3 linked regions of the Homo sapiens genome follow. The protein of the gene in region 3 purifies or fractionates together with the protein of the main gene of each other region. This does not show direct contact. Each region holds a gene or a part of one and is shown on either strand. Other genes may lie near its edges.

Region 1 (4,816 bases), on a different chromosome or scaffold from region 3:
AAAGGAAGGAGGGAAGGAGGAAAAGAAGGAAGGAGGGAGGGAGGGAGGGAAGGAAGGAAGGAAGGAAGGGGAAGTGGAAGAATTCAAACCATAGAGAGTGGCTCTTAACTTTGGCTGTTCACTGAAGCAGAATCTCTAGGGGTGGGGCCCAGACATTTTTAAAGATCCACCCAAGTGATTTCCACGGGTAGCCAGGATAAAAAATCCTGGTCTTCAGAGAGTCAACGGTGGGCCACCACACCCTTCTTGGGCCTTACATATAAACTATTTGCTCATTGTCTCTTTGCACCATAAGTGAAGGCGCTGGTCTCTCACGAGACTGAGAGAGTGATCCCCCCAGCCCCTCACAGCGCTGGGCCCATCAGAGTCCCTTACGAGCACCTTTGTCATTTGGAAAACGCTGGGCAAATGGAAGCGCCCAGGGTAGACTCCCACCTGGAGACCCCTGGGTCGAATCAGGAGCACAGGCACGGCTTGTGGCCCAAAAAAGGTTTGAACACATCTGAATTCACTGCCAGCATTTTTAAATGGAGAGGTTTTACAGAAAAATCCAGCTTTCTGGCTTCTCTTGTAAAAATCAGGAGAACTGGCAACAATGGGCTTGCCCCTCTTGGTGGCCGCTTTCCTTAGATGTGGGGAGGGGGAGGGGCACGCACTCCCCAGCTGCCTGTGCCTCCCCATGCCCTGCTCCTGCACCCCATGCTCTGCCTGGCTGCGAGGTACAATCCCCAGGGAACACCATGGGGTCCACACGACATGTTGCTGTCCTGCCTCAGTCATGACCTTCCCACAGCCCAGCCCCATCCCTTGTGGCTTGTGTTGTCCCCATTTCTCCCCTACCCTGTTTAACCATCTCCTCTTTTTCCTATTGGTCCTGACTTGAATTGACCTTGAAGGTCATCTTTCATTTTAAAAGATTTGTTTATCTGGCTAAGTGTGGCGGCTCTTGCCTGTAATCCCAGCACTTTGGGAGGCCAAGGTGGGAGAAGCGCTTGAGTCCAGGAGTTCATGACCAACCTGGGCAACATAGCAAGACCACATCTCTACAAAAAATAAAAAAAAAACTAGCCAGGCATGGTGGCATGCACTGTAGTCTCAGCTACTCAGGAGGCTGAGGTGGTAGGATTGCTTGAGCCCCGGGAGTTTGAGCTGCAATGAGCTATGATCACGCTAGTGTACTCCAGCCTGGGCGACAGTGCCAGGCCCTATCTCTAAACAAAATAAAAAAATAATAAGTTGCTTACCAATTAAAAGCATAAACTGTGGAATCACGCATTCAAGTTCTACCCTTGTTTCTCTGTCACAATGTGCCCTTGGGCAAGTCACTTGACTTCTCTGAGCATCAGTTTCCGAAATGGCAATGTTAATAGTCTCTACTCAGAGGGTTGTCATGAGGGTGAAACAAGAACACTGTGTACCCTGCTTGGATCATGATATGTGTTCATGAAACCATGGCTGTGATGATCATTATTTTAACTGTAACTCTGCCTATGAAAAGCATTCCTAGTCCTTCCATCAAAAACAACAGTGAATGATCAAAACGCAACCCCAAGCAAAAACTCCCCCCAGACTGCCAACCTCTGAATTGCAGAGATGACACAGAGCTCATTTCTCCTGGCTTTGATTAGAATTTGAATACTTTCTTTACTTCGGTTAAAAAAAAATAAAAAAATAAAAATAATTAGAGAATGAAATATGACATAGAGGACAAAAAAACAAAGTAGAAAGATGGGAAATGTCAACACAGTGGCACCAGCAGCTTAAAGGATATCCATCTTAATTCTCCCTGCTCTACTCTGAGTTAGGGGAAGAAACCTATCTGGGGGTCCCCCCACAGCCCCCCAGCTCCAGTCCTACCCGTTCATCAGCCCCCAAGCCAGCCTGGGTGAAGGGCCGCTCATCCCCCTCGCCGTCGGCCGTGCTGGGCCTCCTCATTGCCTCTTCATCCTGCAGGCTGTCCAGGCTCCCCACATCCAGGTCAAACATCTCATCAGAATAGAATATGGCCTCGAGAATGTCATCATCGGTTGTGAATAAGATCGTGTCTCCAAAGTGCTCTGGGGCTAATGGGTTATCAAGATGACAGAAAGGTCAACTCACTTCACATCCCAGAGATTTGTAGATCAAGAGCCTAAACCCATCCACTTCTGTGCTGTACAACCCCACACCCTTAACTGGTATTGATTAGTGTGAGCCTTATTAGTCTTCACAGATTTGCAAATGGAATGCACGGACCATAAGCATCACATGGATCTAAGGAAGGGATCTAATTTCATGAGAATCACTGTGATATGTCATCAGGCAAGTGACATTTCTTTGGGGTGGGCAAGGCACTATGCAAGACGCTGTTGGTACCCCACCCAGATCTTGGTGGATCCTTTTCTCAGAGTGCCTTGCCTGGAAGGGTGTGGGAGTTACAGCTCCAACCCGGCAAGCCTTGGTTCCAATGACTGCCTGGTAGGTGGGGTTCTAACGCCCTGCTCCTTCACCTTCAGGCAGGAAAGACCTGAAATTTATGTTCCAGACCTCCCTCAAGATCTGGTTGTGGCTGGGCTTCCTGGAAACTATATCCTTGCTTCACTATGCCAGGTTTCTCCTAGGAGCACTCCCTCCATAAGTCACTTGCCAAAGAATGCCCCATCTCAGACTCAGGTTCTAGGGGCCGGACCAAGACAGGTGCTTTATGGGAGATGCTGAATGAGGTCAGGCCTAGCACACTCATGCTGTAAGAGGGGATGAGTGGACCGGGTCTGTGGCTGGGTGCAGGGGCTCATGCCTGTAATCCTAGCACTTTGGGAGGCCAAGGTGGGTGGATCACTTGAGCCCAGGAGTTCGAGACCAGCCTGGGTAACATGGTGAAACCTCGTCTCTACAAAAAATACAAAAATTAGCCAGGTGGGTTGGTGCACCTGTAGTCCCAGCTACTTAGGAGGCTGATGTGGGAGGATTGCTTGAGCCCAGGAGGTCGAAGCTGCAGTGAGCCGAAACCATGCCACTGTGCAGGGCAAGATCCTGTCTCCCCACCCAAAAAAAAAAAAAAAAAAAAAAAGGGCTGGGCGCGGTGGCTCACGCCTGTAATTCCAACACTTTGGGAGGCCGAGACGGGCAGATCATGAGGTCAGGAGATCGAGACCATCCTGGCTAACATGGTGAAACCCTGTCTCTACTAAAAAAAAAAAAAAAAAATACAAAAAATTAGCCGGGCGTGTTGGCGGGTGCCTGTAGTCCCAGCTACTCGTGAGGCTGAGGCAGGAGAATGGCGTGAACCCGGGAGGCGGATCTTGCAGTGAGCCAAGATCGCGCCACTGCACTCCAGCCTGGGGGACAGAGCAAGACTCCGTCTCAAAAAAAAAAAAAAAAAAGAAAGAGAAAGGACTGATCTGTTGTTGGCTAGCCAGCTGGTCTGTTTTTTCCCATAGACTCTCAGCAAGTCACAGATAGGGGCTCTGAGAAAATTCTTACAGACACGCCATACCTCCCGCCAGGGTTCCAGAGGCCTTGGCGATTTCTCCTTCAAAGATGCACTGGGTGTCTAACAGCATTGTGATGTCCTTCACGCCTCGGAAGGAATGTATCCGAGATTTATTGTAGTTCCAAATTCTGATCAGGGCAACGTGGCAAGGGTGCGTGAAGTCAATGGTGATGGAGTGGGATCTGCCCCGCGTGAAGGGGGCCAGCCAGACATGCATGTCATCCTGGGTCCTGTTCACCCCGTCGATGAGGTTGGTGACCACGCGGGGGTCTTTCCCATAGGCTGGTAAAATATTGATATCGGGAGGGTCTGCTTTTATGTTTGAAATCTGCACCGGTTCACCCTTGGAACTGAATATTTCTATTCCGTTGAGGCCGACATAGTGTCTGTCCCCCCAGGTAGACTTGATGTCAATGACCAAGCGCTGTCCATAAGGCAAGACGGGGATTTTAAAGTCACCCCCAGCGTCTGTCTCTCCAGAGTAGCCATCCTGCCCTCTCGACAGCCCTGGCTGCTCCCCCTTCTTGGAGGGGGGCAAGTCGCTGTGCCGGCTGCTCTTTTGCTGCAGGAGCTCATCCAGGATGTCCCCCGGGAGCTCCGTGTTGGAGATGCGTCCCCGGTGGGAGCGGTCGAAGGCACTGAGGGAGCTCCATGACTCGTGAAGTGTGTGCTCCTGCTCACTGCGCCACCTTGACCGTGACGGCGTCCTGGAAGACCAGGTGTCTTCTGGAAGAAAGGACACAAGAGGGGGGAAGCCCTGTGAGTGGCATGTGTGGAAGTGGGGACCATTAGAGACTGTCTCCTGTGGTGGCTCTCAGTGAGGCAGGGCCACCTCCAGGGGAGCCCTCTAGAAACCAGCGGGGTTGTTCCCGGCTGTCTCCTTAGCCAAGAGGCCTCTTGGCACTGGATGGCTGGGGCCAGGCATGTTACCATCCTGCACTGCATGGGGGCCCTGGCACAGAGCTTGGTCTCCTGTCCCACACAGCTTCTGACTGTCCTGTGGGCCATTCAGGTCGGTAAAATAATTGTCTATGATCACCCAATTCCAGAATCTGGTTGTTTTTGCAAAAACACAAAGCATTTTTTCATAGACTGAATTTTCTAAGAATGCAATCATCGTGTGAACCAAGGGAAGACTACTTGGCTGTGTTAGAAACTTTGCCAGGAGTCGCTCCCCACTGTAGAAACTCACATGACCAGGGGCAATGCTGCTGCCTGAGGCGTCTGAGTCAGCCACAAGAGGGTGTGTGCTGGAGACTGTCACAGTCACGTGACTCTAACGGTGTTTTCAAAGACAATTTAATGGCAGGTGGAAGGTTTGTAAAAGAACGTTAAAAGGAAAAA
Region 2 (4,816 bases), on a different chromosome or scaffold from region 3:
GCACTTAATAATCTGCCACTGTTGGCCGGGCGCAGTGGCTCACGCCTGTAATCCCAACACTTTGGGAGGCCGAGGCAGGCGGATTACGAGGTCAGGAGATCGAGACCATTGTGGCTAACACGGTGAAACCCCGTCTCTACTAAAAATATAAAAAGTTAGCTGGGCGTGGTGGCAGGCACCTATAGTCCCAGCTACTCGGGAGGCTGAGGCAGGAGAATGGCATGAACCTGGGAGGCAGAGCTTGCAGTGAGCCGAGATCATGCTACTGCACTCCAGCCTTGGGCAACAGAGCAAGACTCTGTCTCAAAAATAAATAAATAAAATTAAAAAAATAAAAATAAATAAAAATAAAAATCTGCCACTGTCCCCCAGCCCTTGCACACACACACATACCCATTTCTACACACAAAGCCTGTTTCTCCTCCCTTTGGCCCCACTTCCAGTGACTTTCTCTTCTAGCTATGCCCTTCTCAGATCCCCTTCTTCCCTCTACCTCTAGAACTTCAATATCTACAAAAGGATCTTCACTGACATGGTGAGCTCTCCTGGAACCAACTGTGCCGAGGCCTATCATAGCTGGGCTGATCTTCGAGATGTCCTCTTCAACCTGGTGAGGAAGCGAAAGGGCTGCTCCGTCTGTCCTTGTCCTCATCTCTTCTTTGATGCACATAAACCTTTATTCTCAGATGTATTTTACCTTCCTCTGCCAGGTGGCTATCAGAGACCACTCTATGGCCCTGGCACTCCTCTGACCCCTGAGCCAGGCTGTGCTGTCTCCCTCCTCTAGTGTGAAAACCTGGTGAAGTCCAGTGAGGCAAACTCTCCAGCCCATGAGGAGTTCAAGACGATGCTGCTGATCGCTCATTACTATGCCACGCGCTCTGCAGCCCAGAGTGTCAAACAGCTGGTGAGATGTAGGGGGTCGAAGGAACACTCAGTCAGAAGGGCTCATCTGCAAATGTATAAAGCTGAATTGATTCACGTTCTGGATTCTTCAGCTTGGGCTCTTGAATCTCCCCACCTGTCTTTCAGCTTCTCTTCTGTCTAAACAAATCTTTAGCCCTTGCTGAGGTTTTCTTCTTCCGACCTTTTTAGGGCTCTGTGCCCACACAGCCTCAGCCTCATTATGTTTAAACATCCAAATCCCATGATTTCTTTATTCACCTCTTATAATGTACACATATTCTGGGCTTATTTTTGACTGTTCACTGTATATTTATTTCATGTACTTGGATGATAGAATTCTAGAAGTGGAAAGAACCTTAGAAACAATCTAGGTGGGTGGGTGTGGTGGCTCACCCCTGTAATCCCAGCACTTTGGGAGGCCGAGGCGGGTGGATCACTTGAGGCCAGGAGTTCGAGACCAGCCTGGCCAACGTGGTGAAACCCCATCTCTACTAAAAACATAAAAATTAGCCAGGTTGGCCGGGCGCGGTGGCTCACGCCTGTAATCCCAGCACTTTGGGAGGCCGAGGCGGGTGGATCATGAGGTCAGGAGATCGAGACCATCCTGGCTAACAAGGTGAAACCCCGTCTCTACTAAAAATACAAAAAATTAGCCAGGCACGGTGGCGGGCGCCTGTAGTCCCAGCTACTCGGGAGGCTGAGGCAGGAGAATGGCGTGAACCCGGGAAGCGGAGCTTGCAGTGAGCCGAGATTGCGCCACTGCAGTCCGCAGTCTGGCCTGGGCGACAGAGCGAGACTCCGTCTCAAAAAAAAAAAAAAAAAAAAAAAAAAAAAATTAGCCAGGCATGGTAATGTGCGCTTGTAGTCCTAGCTACTCAGGAGGCTGAGGCACGAGAATTACTTGAATCCGGGAGGCAGAGGTTGCAGTGAGCTGAGATGGCACCACTGCACTCCAGCCTGGGCGAAAGAATTGAACCTAGGCCCAGGTGTCTTGTTCAGAGAAAAAGAAAAAAAAAACTAAGACCCAGAACAGCTTGAGAATCCAGAGCAGTTTAATAATAATTGTTGTTTTTTAGTTCTGTGGCTGCCTTACAGGATCATTGGTCTGGTAGCTCAGTCACTTTAGTGCCATATTCATAATGCTTTGACTTTAATCCCAGGAAACCGTGGCTGCCAGGCTTTCTGTTTCACTCTTGCGTCACACCCAGCTACTACCTGTAGACAAAGCCTTCTATGAAGCAGGCATTGCTGCCAAGGTGAGCTGGGACAAGGAAGGGTGGGGCAGATAGGAGGAAGTTAAAGGTTGGAAAATAGAATATCCCTTCTGCTCTGGTAGAGGAAAGCTGAGTGTAGGGCTGATGTTACGGAGGATGTAGTCCTCCTATGTCTTCCTGGATTTTTCTCCCTGGATCCCAGAGAAATAGCATTCAAGCCCAGCTTGCTCACTCCCATTTGCATCTGGATCCCAGAGAAGTAGCATTCAAACCCAGCTTGTTCACTCCCATTTGCAACTCTTCTTTGCTGCAGGCAGTTGGCTGGGATAACATGGCATTCATCTTCCTCAATCGCTTTTTGGACCTGACCGATGTGAGTAGGGAAGCTGTGCCCCGAGGGTGGAGGTTTTTGCCAGTCGCGAGCTGTGCCTAGTTCATGGTTGCCCACTCTACTGCAGGCAATCGAGGAAGGGACTCTAGATGGCCTTGACCACTCTGATTTTCAGGATACAGACATTCCCTTTGAGGTGCCACTCCCAGCTAAGCAGCATGTACCGGTAAGGGCACAGGGTTGGAAAACCGGAAGGCCTCACCAGTGTGAGTGCCTTGAGGAGGGAGAATATCTTTGTGCTGCCATCTTTGGAAGGACCTCAGCCCTCACTGTTTTTTCAGTGAAAGTAGAAGCAAAATAGAAAGAAAAGGCTGTGACTGCATCCCCCAATCCAAGGAGGATTCGTGGCTAAAAGCTGGTATACAGGATGAGGGCTTAGCAAACCCCCTCCTCACCCATCCACCCCAACTTGTCCTGCCCTGCCCTGTGTGAAGCTACCACTCCCTTCTTGTCCTTTCCAGGAGGCTGAGAGAGAAGAGGTTCGAGACTGGGTGCTTACAGTCTCCATGGACCAGCGGCTGGAGCAGGTTCTGCCTCGGGATGAGCGTGGCGCCTACGAGGCCTCCCTAGTGGCAGCGAGCACTGGTGTTCGAGCCCTGCCCTGCCTTATTACAGGTATAGAAGCCTACAGCACCCCAGATCCTGTGGTGGGTAGAAAGCAGCAGGATCAATAAACTTAATTTTACTAGGATTCAGTAAAGGGTACAAAAGACAGGACTGTGCTTTCTACCCCCCAGGCTGCTCCTCATTTTTCCCTCCTCAATCTCTCTCAAACCCCAGTTCATCATTTTTTCTTCCTCCACAGGATACCCCATTCTGAGGAACAAAATTGAATTTAAGCGGCCAGGGAAGGCTGCTAACAAGGACAACTGGAATAAATTCCTTATGGCCATCAAGGTTAGAGAGGAGGACTTGGAGAATGAAGGCAGAGAGGGCAGCACTAAAAAAAGAAAAAAAAACAAGTCTGGGTGCAGTGGCTCATACCTTTAATCCCAGCACTTTGGGAGGCCAAGGTGGGCGGATCACCTGAGGTCAGGAGTTTGAGACCAGCCTGGCCAACATGGTTAAAACCTCGTCTCTACTAAAAATACAAAAGTTAGCCGGGTCTGGTGGCGTGCACCTGTAATCCCAGCTACTCAGGAGGCTGAGGCAGGAGAATCGCTTAAACCCGAGAGGCAGAGGTTGCAGTGAGCTGAGATTGTGCCACTGCACTCCAGCCTGGGCGACAAAGCAAGACTTTGTCTCAAAACAAACAAAAAACCCACATACACACTAGAAAGATGGGTGGGATTACAGGAAGGCAGATGCAGACCCTGAAGCCTGCGATGGAGCTGATTTTGTATTTCCAGCATTAACAAGTTCCTCTCATGTTCTTCCATTTGCTCACAGACCTCCCACAGCCCAGTGTGCCAGGACGTGCTGAAATTCATCAGTCAGTGGTGTGGAGGGCTCCCCAGCACCAGCTTTTCCTTTCAGTAGTTGGTAGAGCTGAGGAAGAGTTAGGGCCTCTCCCTCATTAAAGTTTTATAAATAATTGAGACCACTGTATTCTTTGATCAAAGTCATTCCCAACACCACACAGTGCCTTTTCCCCAAAAGGAATCATAATCAAGTAGAAGAAAAGAGAAGTTACTTTATTACAATTTGTTATCTCATCCCGAGGTCAGGGCCCCTTGCTTAGTGGGAAAAAAAACCCTTTAGGACTGAGTCTCGGAACAGCACCTGCTGGACAGAGGGGAGAACCAACCCAGGTCAGAGGGGAAAGCAGCATGGCAAGACCTAGACCCAGTTCTAAGAGCACTTCCTTGTCCCCGCTCTTACCCGGGCCACCACCTTCAAGGCCCATTACCTGTCCTAAACCCAACTTCTCTGTGATGCCCGGATTTCTTGATTTTGATCCAGTAGCTGCTCATTTTCCTGCCTTTTACATTTAGGAGATTCAAGCTCTGTCATTTCCTCTAGCTGCAGAAGAAGATAGAGTTAGACACCCTCGCCCTGAATGATAGGTCAGCATCTTTTTTTTGTTTTGTTTTTTGTGACGGAGCCTCACTCTGTTGCCCAGGCTGGAGTGCAGTGGCGTGATCTCGGTTCACTGCAACCTCCGCCTTCCGGGTTCAAGCGATTCTCCTGCCTCAGCCTTCCAAGTAGCTGGGATTACAGGCGCCCACCACCCCACCTAATTTTTTGTATTTTTAGTAGAGACGAGGTTTCACCATGTTGTCCAAGCTGGTCTCAAACTCCTGACCTCAAGTGATCCGCCTGCCTCAGCCTCCCAAAGTGCTGGGATTACAGGTGTGAGCCTCCG
Region 3 (5,273 bases):
CACCACACCCAGCTAATTTTTTGTATTCTTAGTAGAGACGGGGTTTCACCATGTTGGCCCGGATGGCCTCGATCTCCTGACCTTGTGATCCACCCACCTCGGCCTCCCAAAGTGTTGGGATTACAGGCGTGAGCCACCGCACCAAGCCTATGCCACGTTTTTTAATTCATTCATTTGTTAATGGACACTCGGGTTGTTTTCATATTTTGGCTATTGTGAATAACACTGCTATGAACAGAGGTGTACAAGTGTCCATTTGAGTCCCTGTTTTCAATTCTTTGGGACCTAGCCACCTAGGTTTTTGACTTGAGCGTGTTTATGCTCTTGACAGCTGTGGATATTATAATTTGTTTTTAATTTGGGCTAATTTAGTAAATAAAAAAAGGGTTTAATTTGCATTTATTTGATATAGAAATCATTTATCATGTTTTCATTCCAGTTAATGCCTTACATCTAATTATACTTTTATTTTAATTTAATTTTTTATTTATAGAGACAGAGTTTTGCTCTGTCACCCAGGCTGGAGTGCGGTAGCATGATCACGGTTCACTGCAGCCTCGACCTCCTGGGCTCATGCAGTCCTCCTGCTTCAGAACCCCCGGTAGCTGGGACTACCAGCCCATGCCCCCATGTCCAGCTAATTTTTTTTTTTTTTGAGATGGAGTCTTGCTCTGTCGCCCAGGCTGGAGTGCAATGGCGTGATCTCGGCCCACTGCAACCTCAACCTCCCAGGTTCAAGCGATTCTCCTGCCTCAGCCTCCTGAGTAGCTGGGATTATAGGAGTGTGCCACCACACCTGGCTAATTTTTTTGTATTTTTAGTAGAGACGGGGTTTCACCATGTTGGCCAGGCTGGTCTCGAACTCCTGACCTCAGGTGATCCACCCGCCTCAGCCTCCCAAAGTGCTGGGATTACAGGCAGGAGCCACTGTGCCCGGCCTAATTTTTGTATTTTTTGTAGAGACAGGGTTTCACCGTGTTGCCCAGGCTGGTCTTGAACTCCTAGGCTCAAGCAATCTGCCTGCCTCCGCCTCTTAGAGTGCTGGGATTACAGGTGTGAGCCACTGCGCCTGTCATTAATTATCCTTTTAATTGTTCAGAATATTTAAAAATTGCTCTTATCTTTGCATACTGATTCGGATTCAAACTTGTGACTATTATTTGCCAGGCCCTGGGTCAGTTCCTTGCACATAAATTTTTTCACTTGATCCTTATAAGAGGCCTGGGTTAGAAATATTAGTGACCCCATTTAGAGGTGGGAATACTGAGACTCAAAGAGGTTAAATCTTTTTTTTTTCTGTCCATATGTTTATCGTCTTTATCTGAAAAATCTTTATAGAAAATTGTTTGGTTTAGCTCTCAGCAGCCTGCTCCTGAGCTCTGAGGGAGCTTGCCTTCTTTTAAGCTACCTGATGTTTCTTCTGAGCAAGGGACATTTTGGGACAGTTCCACCTATTCTTTTTAACTTCTTTCTTGGGCCTCTTTTCATAGACTGGATTCTCTCATATAGCAGCATGAGCTTTCTTATACATCTCTTCCATCATGTCTGGAGTTACGCTCTTCTTTATGCATTGAGAGAACTGGTTCTTGTAAGCATCTTCATCTTCTTCTGTTAAGTAGTGCATGTAATCTGCAACATTCTGGCCCATGATGTGCTTCTGGTGTACTTCTGCATTAAATTCCTTGCTTTCAGAATCATAACTAGGGAATCGTTTGGTACTGTGAGGGACAGACAAGCCTCCATCCACAGCTCCCTTCAGGGTGCCAAAAACTTTATTGCCAGTGGTAGTTCTGGCAAGACCTGTATCCAAATAGCAGGTAAAGGCACCTGGCTGACCATCAATGCTTTCCACATTGTATTCATTGCCAGTCTCCTCCACTTGGCCTTCATAGATCTTGTCCATGCCAAACCTATTGGGAAGCCTGCGGGCCAGCAGCAGGCCAGTACAATAAGTTGCAGCATAATTTGTCAGGCCAACCTTCACACCACATTTTGGCAGTTTGTGTGCATATGCTGCGCAGACTATATCCCCCTCTATACGGGCATAAGCAGTCTGACAAATGATATCTCTGTTTGTTACACGAACTATCATCTTATATTTGGGTGTGTTGTATTTATTTTTATCCTGTATCACCAAGCATTTCTGAGGATAGTAACCAGTTTTACCCTCTCGTCGTCTTCTAAATTTCACTTGGTATCTCTTAAAGTAGGCTTTATTCTTAACAACTTTAATAAACCCCATTCTGCGGAACAGAGACCCGCGTTTGCGGCTCGACAGAGACCTGCCGGCCCAGCAGTGCTAGGGGGTGAAAAGGCAAAATCATTTTAAGTAATTTTTCTTCAAACCCACTCTTAGTATGAATTCAGCACTCTGTACTTTACTAGTTATTAACCTAATTTGACTAATGTGTAAACTAAGGGCAGAGTGTATATTTTTCTCTTTCTTTTCTTTTCCCCCTCCCCTCCCCTCCCCTCCCCTCCCCTCCCTTCCCCTCCCATTCCGTTTCTGACAGGCTCTCACTCTGTTGCCCGGGCTGGAGTGCAGCAGCATGAACACTGGACACTGCTCACTGCAGCCTCGAACTCCTGGGTTTAAGCAGACCTCCTGCGTCAGCCTCCCGAGTAGCTGGGACCACAGGCGCATGGCATCACACCCAGCTAATTTTTTTTCTTTTTTTTTTTTTGTAGATGGGATCTTGCCATATTGTCCAGTCTAGGCTCAAACTCCTGGGCTCAAGTGATCCTCCTGCCTCCCCTTCCCAAAGTGTTGGGATTATAGGCATGAGCCACTGCCCCTGGCCAGAGTTTATATTATTTATGTAATGGCAGATAATTTGAATAGTATAATGTCTAACCCAATGCCTTAAGCACAGTAATGTTTAGTAAATATATCTTGAATTGAACTGGCAGAGCCATGACTAGAATTCAGTCTCCTGTCTCTTTAGCCAGATGTTCCAATAAACCTTGTTTTATAAAATGGTTAGAGCATAAAATATTAAAAACTAAAAAATACTTGTTTTTAAAAATCATTTTAACAATAATCTAAAGGAAAAACTTTTTTTCTAAGGACTTCCTCGTTCTGCCCATCTTCCTAACAAGGCTATGGCTGATAACAGCAGTGATGAGTGTGAAGAGGAAAATAACAAGGTACAGTAAAACTCACAGCTTCTTGTAGAATTTCTGCTTTGGGTTTTTAGTAGTTAGAGATGACACCAGTTCAACGGTAAACATTTCTTGAACACTCACCTCCAGGGGTTAGGGACCTTTGAGCTCATGGAGGAAAATCAGTTACAAAGAGCCTTGAGATTTTGACCCTTCTTCAGGAATAAAGCCTACTACTACAATTGACTTTGGTGAGGAATTTCACATAATGTAGGCCAGTGTTTCACAAACTTTCCTGATCATAATACTCAACTGAGGTACTTATTTTTAAATATACGGATTCCCAGTCCCAGCCCAGAATCTCAAAAGTAAAAGCCTGGGAATTTATATTTTTTAGGAAGCAGTCCAGGTAATTTTATGCTAAAGCGAGTTTGAAATTATCAGTCTAGGCATTTTTTCATTGTCAATACTTGTGATACTGCCAGTATTTTGTGAAGGAGATTTTAATTTTGAGGTCTTAAGACCCAGATGTTGGCTGCTGTTATTCTGTGTACCTAGAGAATCACCCTGCTTCTGAAAGAAACATGGCAAGAGGCCCACCTCTCTAGAAACATATAGGACCTTAGAGTTGCACATATGATTTCTTAAAAACCGTTTATGTTGGCCGGGTGTGGTGGCGCACTCCTGTAATCCCAGCACTTTGGGAGGCCGAGGCGGGCGGATCACCTGAGGTCAGGAGTTTGAGACCAGACTGTCCAACATGGCGAAACCCCATCTCTAATAAAAATACAAAAAATTAGCTGGGCGTGGTGGCGGGTGCCTGTAATCCCAGCTACTTGGGAGGCCTCCCAAGGTGCTGGGATTACAGGCACAAGCCACTGTGCCCAGCCTGTTTTTTTTGTTTGTTTTTTTTTTTTGAGACAGAGTCTTGCTCTTTCACCCAGGCTGGAGTGCAGTGATCTTGACTCACTGCAACCTCTGCCTCTTGGGTTCAAGCAATTCTCATGCCTCAGCCTCCCGAGTAGCTGGGGGATCACAGGCCTGCACCAACTCGCCTGGCTAATTTTTGTATTTTTAGTAGAGATGGGGTTTTGCCATGTTGGCCACACTGGTCTTGAACTCCTGACCTCAGGTGATCCTCCTGCCTTGGCCTTCCAAAGTGCTGGGATTACAGGTGTGAGCCACTGTACCCAGCCTGATGGCTGCATTTTAATGGTTTTTGTTTTTGTTTTGAGACAGAGTCATCTCGCTCTGTTGCCTAAGCTGGAGTGTAGTGGCATGACCTCAGCTCGCTGCAACCTCCGCCTCCAGGGTTCAAGCAATTCTCCTGCCTCAGCCTCCTGAGTAGCTGGGATTACAGGCGTGCGCCACCACGCCTGGCTAATTTTTGTATTTTTGGTAGAGATGGGGTTTCACCATGTTGGTCAGGCTGGTCTCGAACTCCTGACCACATGATCCGCCTGCTTCGGTCTCCCAAAGTGCTGGGATTACAGGCATGAGCCACCACCCCGGGCTGACAATATTCTTAAAAGTTCCCTCTGCCAAAACTGCTTCCTATGTGACTAAGGATAATTTTGGCAAATCTTGAATTGAGAAAGAATGCTCTAGAAAGTTCTTATCAGTCATATACTAATAAGGCATAGTCACTGAATAAATTCTGCAACTGTGTTTCATTATCTGCCATGCATATTACAGCTTAGTTAGAATATACTTTATGTATAATAAATTTGTTATTCTTAGAGCAAAATGTGACTAAAAGCAGTTTTTGGTGTCCTGTAACGTGTCACAATTTTGTGTGCCAATAGCTGCTTTACCATAAAAACAAATTAATTTTAAACAACTGGAATCAAACGTGTTAACCTCAGTATAAGCCATACGGTATATAGAAACCAAGTTTTGAAAACCTACTTTTAAAGGGGGCCAATTGGTCATCCTTCAGGTCCTAAGGGAGGGCATGCCACAGGCTCCAGGCCACAGAGGCAAAGACATGGACCCTGTTCCACCTGCCCCTGCAAGTCTCAAGTGCCACCAGACCCCTTCTCATGTACTTGAGAGGGTGGGATGGTACAGAGAGAGCCAGAAGCACAGAAAGGTAGGTTATAATGTCAAGAACAAAAGAGCTGTTTATCTTGAGAGAGAATGTGTAGTCATTTTATGTAATTTATGGGGTA

Evidence for each region. Proteins that work in one complex are often made in the same cells at the same time.
Region 1: the proteins of IFT46 (region 3) and KATNIP purify together in Homo sapiens (tandem affinity purification; one large-scale study listed by IntAct). This does not show direct contact.
Region 2: the proteins of IFT46 (region 3) and IFT172 purify together in Homo sapiens (affinity purification with mass spectrometry; 2 studies listed by BioGRID and IntAct, with this or other methods). This does not show direct contact.

What each region holds. Positions count from the first base shown.
Region 1 is NC_000016.10:27,748,966-27,753,781, reverse strand, and holds part of KATNIP (katanin-interacting protein), read right to left. Parts: intron 4,199-4,816; coding exon 3,476-4,198; intron 2,064-3,475; coding exon 1,858-2,063; intron 1-1,857. UniProt on the Homo sapiens protein: May influence the stability of microtubules (MT), possibly through interaction with the MT-severing katanin complex.
Region 2 is NC_000002.12:27,443,606-27,448,421, reverse strand, and holds the end of IFT172 (intraflagellar transport protein 172 homolog), read left to right. Parts: intron 1-499; coding exon 500-610; intron 611-787; coding exon 788-907; intron 908-1,940; exon of another isoform or gene 1,941-2,066; coding exon 2,067-2,162; intron 2,163-2,433; coding exon 2,434-2,493; intron 2,494-2,578; coding exon 2,579-2,677; intron 2,678-2,972; coding exon 2,973-3,126; intron 3,127-3,316; coding exon 3,317-3,408; intron 3,409-3,900; coding exon 3,901-3,990; 3' UTR 3,991-4,045; downstream 4,046-4,816. Other genes in the region: KRTCAP3 (keratinocyte-associated protein 3), read right to left, coding at 4,366-4,473. UniProt on the Homo sapiens protein: Required for the maintenance and formation of cilia. Plays an indirect role in hedgehog (Hh) signaling, cilia being required for all activity of the hedgehog pathway.
Region 3 is NC_000011.10:118,557,659-118,562,931, reverse strand, and holds part of IFT46 (intraflagellar transport protein 46 homolog), read left to right. Parts: intron 1-1,293; exon of another isoform or gene 1,294-2,315; intron 2,316-3,067; 5' UTR 3,068-3,102; coding exon 3,103-3,147; intron 3,148-5,041; coding exon of another isoform or gene 5,042-5,194; intron 5,195-5,273. UniProt on the Homo sapiens protein: Forms part of a complex involved in intraflagellar transport (IFT), the bi-directional movement of particles required for the assembly, maintenance and functioning of primary cilia. May play a role in chondrocyte maturation and skeletogenesis.